2 linked regions of the Homo sapiens genome follow. The protein of the gene in region 2 interacts with the protein of the main gene of each other region in a pairwise test. Each region holds a gene or a part of one and is shown on either strand. Other genes may lie near its edges.

Region 1 (2,414 bases), on a different chromosome or scaffold from region 2:
GTGTCTTTGAGCCAGATTCATATTTTGCATAGCACCCCATCAAAAGTAGTTCATCAAATGTCTATTAAACGTTTTAAAGAAAAGTACATCATTGACCCATTTTTAGGGCACTTGTAAAAATGTTTCTATAAATATGTGAAGGGTATGTACATTTGTTTTGTGTGTCACATGGGGTCAGTAAGTTCTCAATAAAAATTGTTAAGAAATGCCATTCAAACCGAATGTCACGGACTCTCGTCTCATGCAGTAATCTTGAGTCACCATCTGGGGGCTGTGCATGTCACAGAATTTTCCCATGTGCCCATGGCAGGCTTACACCGACCCAGACATTCTCTTCCACCCCCACCCCCAACACCCCATACTCATCTCCTCTCTGCCCCCATTGATACCAGGTACATGTGCAGGATGGGGTGGTGTGAGTCCCTAATGAGAGAATAGTGTGTTTCAAGTTACTGCCAGGGTGGAAAACAGCAAAACCAAAATGGTATCGGGAAGGAAGCCATGCCCACTCTTAAAAATTCATTAAGTTTTTTCTTGCTATGGAAGACTTCTTTAAAGTAATTTTCTTGTAAAAGTGTAAGTGTAAATAATGCCATGAAATTATACACTTATTTAATGGCTAAAATGGCAAATTTTTATATGGTTTACCACAACAAAAGAAAAGAAAAAATATACCAAAAAGTTTTTAAAAAGTGATCATGAACATTGTGGTCATCCTGTGAAGTGATTGCAATGCCTGCAGATAAGGAGTGATGGTTACAACAGTATTTTCTCTGAAAATTATTTGATGGCCAGTTTCATAATGATTATGTTTTCAGCCTGAAGGAAAATTCCATTTTCTTGGGTGAGCATGAACTTTCTGTCAGGCTGTCTGCTGCTTTTCATTCCCCACTTCTCTCTTCACAATTGTGGGTGTCAAGCTTCAGCCACGCAATTGCATTTGGTGTGAGGGTTTTGCAAGGAGAAGGAGGTTTATTCATACCCCTGAAGCCACAAGCCTTGGTGGGAATAAGGAAAGTCCATGAATTCACTATGCATTAATGCATGCCTCTTGGCCAAGTGGATTCTTTTTTCTTCTCCGATTGAGATTTTCCTTTTTTTTTTTTTTTTTTTTTTTTGCTCTTGTTCTCATTGTATTGTGCTTTGTATAATTATTTACAGTAAGTCGCGCATGTCAGTGTACATTCCGTCTGGAAATTGTTTCCATTTGGTACATTTTGTGCCAGTCGGTCTATTCCTGCTCATTATTTTGTTTTTTCTACATTCAGACTGAAACATTTGGTAGCCTAGAGATACTCAGAAATAGGCAAAGAAAGGTAAAAGGGGAGGAGGGGAGATTGAAATCATACTTCCATTATCCCTCCCCGTGGTTATCAGATTCATAAAATTTTTACACCATCAAAAGACATTTTTAGCCATATATGTTTCCTTTATGTAGAAAATGAGATCTCCTATACTCAGTTGGCATTTGTTTTCATGTATCTGATAAGTACCTGTTAGAATTATAGGTCAAGATGTTGTCTAGCTCTGGTAACCTAGATCCTGAACTTCAAAGCAGAGTTCTTGGACCTTAAGAAATTCAAATTCGTAGAATTATAGTTAGGATGTCATTTACTGACCTTGAACAACACATTGTTTAGGTAGCATACAATGGGACTAGTTCAAGGGGCTGGGTGGAGAACAAGTTACAATTTTTTCTGATGGAGAACATTACTGGAGACAGTACCCTTTAAAACTTTCATTCCCTTTTTATTAGCAGCTAACGTCTTGTATGCCTTTACTATGTGACAAGCAATAAAATAATGTCCTTGGATGATTTTGTTTGATGCTCAAATGAATCCTAATAGTGAGGTTCTAGCATCTTCATTGAAAGAAGAGGAAACTTATCCATGGTGCAAAGCTAATCAGAGGAACAGGATCTGAAGCCAAATTTGTCTGCCTCCAGAGCCCATGCTTTGTCAAGTTTAATTCAGCGGTGGTGCACTGGGATGCCACAGTTAGGGCAATCTGGCTTCCAATCCCAGATGCACCACTTCCCAGCTGTTTCCCCCTGGGCATTTTACTTAAGCTCTGTAGTATCATTATTATTCTCTATAAGATGATAATATTATATCACAGAATTGATGAGAGGGATAAATAACATATGTAAGTGGCCTTCCACAATGCCCAGCCAGAGTAAGCACACAGAAATGTTTTCTACTATTATTCTATATTATCTCCTATCATCATATTATTATAACCTGTTGTTCCACCTTTCCTATGTGGTATAACAGAAAGAGATCTGATTAAAAATAAGGTGGTCTGGGTTCTTGCTGCAGCTCTACGCTGTCTTTGTTACCTTGAATGAGTCGCTTAACCTACTATATCTCTGCTGTCTCATGTGTTAGGCCATTCTTGTTTTGCTATAAGGAAAT
Region 2 (3,755 bases):
GTACACTTCCAGGCTTCCAGGCGAGGCAGAGTGAGCTGTGCCAGCAATCGTGGTGGAGTGGGACAAGAGAGAAAAGGGAGCTGTTCACAGGCACCGAAGCCTGGCTGGCTCTTTTTTTTTTTGAGACGCCGTCTCGCTCTGTCTCCCAGGCTGGAGTGCAGTGGCGCGATATAGGCTCCCTGCAATCTCCGCCTCCCGGGGTTCAAGCGATTCCCCTGCCTCAGCCTGCCGAGTAGCTGGAATTACAGGCGCCCGCCACCACGCTCAGCTAATTTTTGTATTTTTAGTAGAGACGGGGTTTCACCATGTTGGTCATGCTGATCTCGAACTCCTGACCCCAGGTGATCCGCCCTCCTCGGCCTCCCAAAGTGCTGGGTTTTCAGGCGTGAGCCACCGTGCCCTGCCTGGCTGGCTCTTTTATTTTATTTTTATTTATTTATTAGAGACAGGGCCTCACTGTGTCGCCCAGGCTGCAGTGCAGTGGTGTGATCATAGCTCACTGCAGCCTCGACCTCCTGGGCTCAAGCGATCCTACTACCACCTGGACCTCTCAAAGCCCTGGGATTACGGGCATGAGCCACCGTGCCTGGCCTTGGCTTGCTCTTACGGGCCTCCCAGCCAATCAGGTGTGGCGGCAGCCTACACACCCCCTACACACCTCACAGATGGTAAAGGGTTGAGAGAAAGGTGACAGGGTTTGCAAATGGGAGCTACTTAGGGTGGCAAAATAGAAGCAAGAAAGGCAGGTCAGGCACGGTGTCTCACGGCTGTAGTTCCAGAATTTTGGGAGGCCCAGGTGGAAGGATTGCTTGAGCCCAGGAGTTCGAGGCTGCAGTGAGCTATGATTGCACCATTGCACCCCAGCACCGGCAACAGAGGGAGACCCCGTTCATAAAATAAAAATGAAATAATAATTTTTTAAAAAGCCGGGCGTGGTGGCTCACGCCTGTAATCCCAGCACTTTGGGAGGCCGAGGCGAGTGGATCACGAGGTCAGGAGATCGAGACCATCCTGGCTAACATGGTGAAACCCCATCTCTACTAAATGTACAAAAAATTAGCCGGGCGTGATGGCGGGCGCCTGTAGTCCCAGCTACTTGGGAGGCTAAGGCAGGAGAATGGTGTGAGCCCGGGAGTCGGAGCTTGCAGTGAGCAGAGATCGCGCCACTGCACTCCAGCCTGGGCGACAGAGCGAGACTCTGTCTCAAAAAAAAAAAAAAAAAAAAGGACAGTAGTACTCCTGAGCACTTGCTGAGGGAGCCTCCAGGGCTGTTCAGGTGAAGGAGAATCAGGGTCCAGTCTCTTCGTGGAGAGAGTGGGAAAAGGCAGACTCCACAGCAGATCAACGCTGGGGCCCGGCTGGAAATCAATGAAATCTCAGCCTAAGAGGCCTGAAGCCTATGGACCAATGAGACTCAAGGCTCTGCCCCTTCACAGCCAATCAGCTGCGGGTCCGAGGCAGACGCGCGGGAGTGGCGCTGTCCTAGGTGCCTCCCAGGCTGCCCAGCGTGCTCAGCTGGCCTGAGCGGGAGAATGCGGCCCGCGCTGCAGCCAATCAGCGTCCGCCTCAGGATCCAGGGGTGACCACGTGCGGGAGCGTTGCGTCCCTGGCCTCGCTCCATTCCCCACTTTTAACGGTCACTCGGCCTTAAGCCGTCCTGGGTGTATGTGAGGCTGAAAGGGAAGGAGGAACAGGGTCTGGGCCGGTGAGTGCCATAGTTTTTCTTACTTTACTTTCTTGGGCTTGGGCCCGGCCCAGGCAAATCTGGGGTATGGGGGCTTGACTGGACCTCGTTGATGATTGGGAAGTGCGGGTTGAGGGCTTTAGCCCTTGGGGCTTTCCTCTGCCTTTGAGAGGCTGGAAATGCAGCCTCCTGGCCACCTTTAGGCCTAGGTTTGGCAGAGGCTAAGCCAGCTTGCTCTCTGAGTTGGTCCACGGCCCCCGAGGCCAGCCTGAGTAGGAAGGGTGTTGTGGGGAAGTTGGAGGTCCTTAACTCTGCATGAGGTATGGCCTCCGGACAATGAGAGCTTATCAAGGGTCTCTGGACTGAGCCTGGATCCGGTGACTGAAAGGAGAGGCCTGTGGATCTCCAAAGGTTATGCAGGGGCTGGGCGCGGTGGCTCACGCCTGTAATCCCAGCACTTTGGGAGGCTGAGGCAGGTGGATCATTTGAGGTCAGGAGTTTGAGACCAGCCTGGCCAACATGGAGAAACCCTGTCTCTACGGGGTTTCTAAAAAAAATTACCTGGGCGTGGTGGCACACGTCCGTAATCCCAGCTACTCAGAAAGCTGAGGCAGGAGAATCGCTTGAACTCATTGAACTCAGGAGATGAACGTTGCAGTGAGCTGAGATCACGCCATTGCACTCCAGCCTGGGCGACAGAATGAGACCCTGTCTCAAGAAAAAAAATGAAAAGAAAAAAAAAGTTATGTAGGAAGTCACTGGCCAAGAGATGAAACTAGTGTGCACATGAAGGTTTCCTGGGGTCTTTGGAGCCAGCCTGGGCTGGGAGTGAATGTTCTGGACTCCAGGTTGAGATGTTCTTGGCAGATTTCCCAGTATGGAGTCCAGGTTGGATGATGTGGCCAAGAGGTTAGGCCAGTAATCCTCTGGAGATTCTAGGGAGAAGGATTCTGAATCCCAGCCGAGCTGTTTGCGCTGGATGAAGTATTATTGCCTTGTGGTGGCTCTGTACAGAACTGGGATTGGGTGGCCAGGCGTGGTGGCTCACACCTGTAATCCCAGCACTTTGGGAGGCTGAGGTGGGTGGATCACCAGGTCAGGAGCTCGAGACCAGCCTGACCAACATGGTGAAACCCTGTCTCTACTAAAAATACAAAAATTAGCCAGGTGTGGTGGCAGGTGCCTGTAATCCCAGCTACTCAGGAGTCTGAGGCAGGAGAATCCCTTGAACCCACGAGGCGGAGGTTGCAGTGAGCAGAGATCGCACCACTGCACTCCAGCCTGGGCAACAGAGCAATGCTCTGTCTCAAAAAAAAAAAATTAATTAAAAAAAAAAAAAAGCAGGGCCAGGCGTGGGGGCTCACATCTATAATCCCAGCACTTTGAGAGGCCAAGGCGGGCGGATTACCTGAGGTCAGAAGTTTGAGACCAGCATGACCAACATGGAGAAACCCCATCTCTACTAAAAATACAAAATTAGCTGGGCGTGGTGGCACATGCCTGTAATCCCAGCTACTAGGGAGGCTGAGGCAGGAGAATCGCTTGTACCTGGGAGGCGGAGGTTGCGGTGAGCCGAGATCGTGCCATTGCACTCCAGCCTGGGCAACAAGAGCGAAACTCCATCTCAAAAAAAAAAAAAAAACTGGAATTGGGTCATGTCTGGAGCTTTTCATTCTCCCTGTCCCACTCTTTCCCATGCCTGTTCTGATAATTCCTAGAAGATGAAGATATCAGGCTGTAGGTGCGGGGCAGGTGCATGGGGAGGATGAACATCGTAGTGGAGCACAGGAAGAGGTGTGTGAGATATTCTCCTCTTTAGGAAATCACCCAGGTTTTTGGCAGGGCGTGGTGGCTCACACCTGTAATCCTAGCACTTTGGGAGGCCGAGGCAGGTGGATCACCTGAGGTCAGGAGTTCAAGACCAGCCTGGCCAACGTGGTGAAACCCCATCTCTACTAAAAATGCAAAAAATTAGCCGGGCATGGTAGATGCCTGTAATCCCAGCTACTTAGGAGCCTGAGGTAGGAGAATCACTTGAACCCAGGAGGCAGAGGTTGCAGTGAGCCGAGAT

The links. Proteins that work in one complex are often made in the same cells at the same time.
Region 1: the proteins of ZBTB32 (region 2) and RHOXF2 interact in binary tests that used the Homo sapiens proteins (3 or more experiments, as listed by UniProt).

What each region holds. Positions count from the first base shown.
Region 1 is NC_000023.11:120,163,818-120,166,231, forward strand, and holds the end of RHOXF2 (rhox homeobox family member 2), read left to right. Parts: 3' UTR 1-1,813; downstream 1,814-2,414. UniProt on the Homo sapiens protein: Transcription factor maybe involved in reproductive processes. Modulates expression of target genes encoding proteins involved in processes relevant to spermatogenesis.
Region 2 is NC_000019.10:35,702,919-35,706,673, forward strand, and holds the start of ZBTB32 (zinc finger and BTB domain-containing protein 32), read left to right. Parts: upstream 1-1,639; 5' UTR 1,640-1,705; intron 1,706-3,755. UniProt on the Homo sapiens protein: DNA-binding protein that binds to the to a 5'-TGTACAGTGT-3' core sequence. May function as a transcriptional transactivator and transcriptional repressor. Probably exerts its repressor effect by preventing GATA3 from binding to DNA.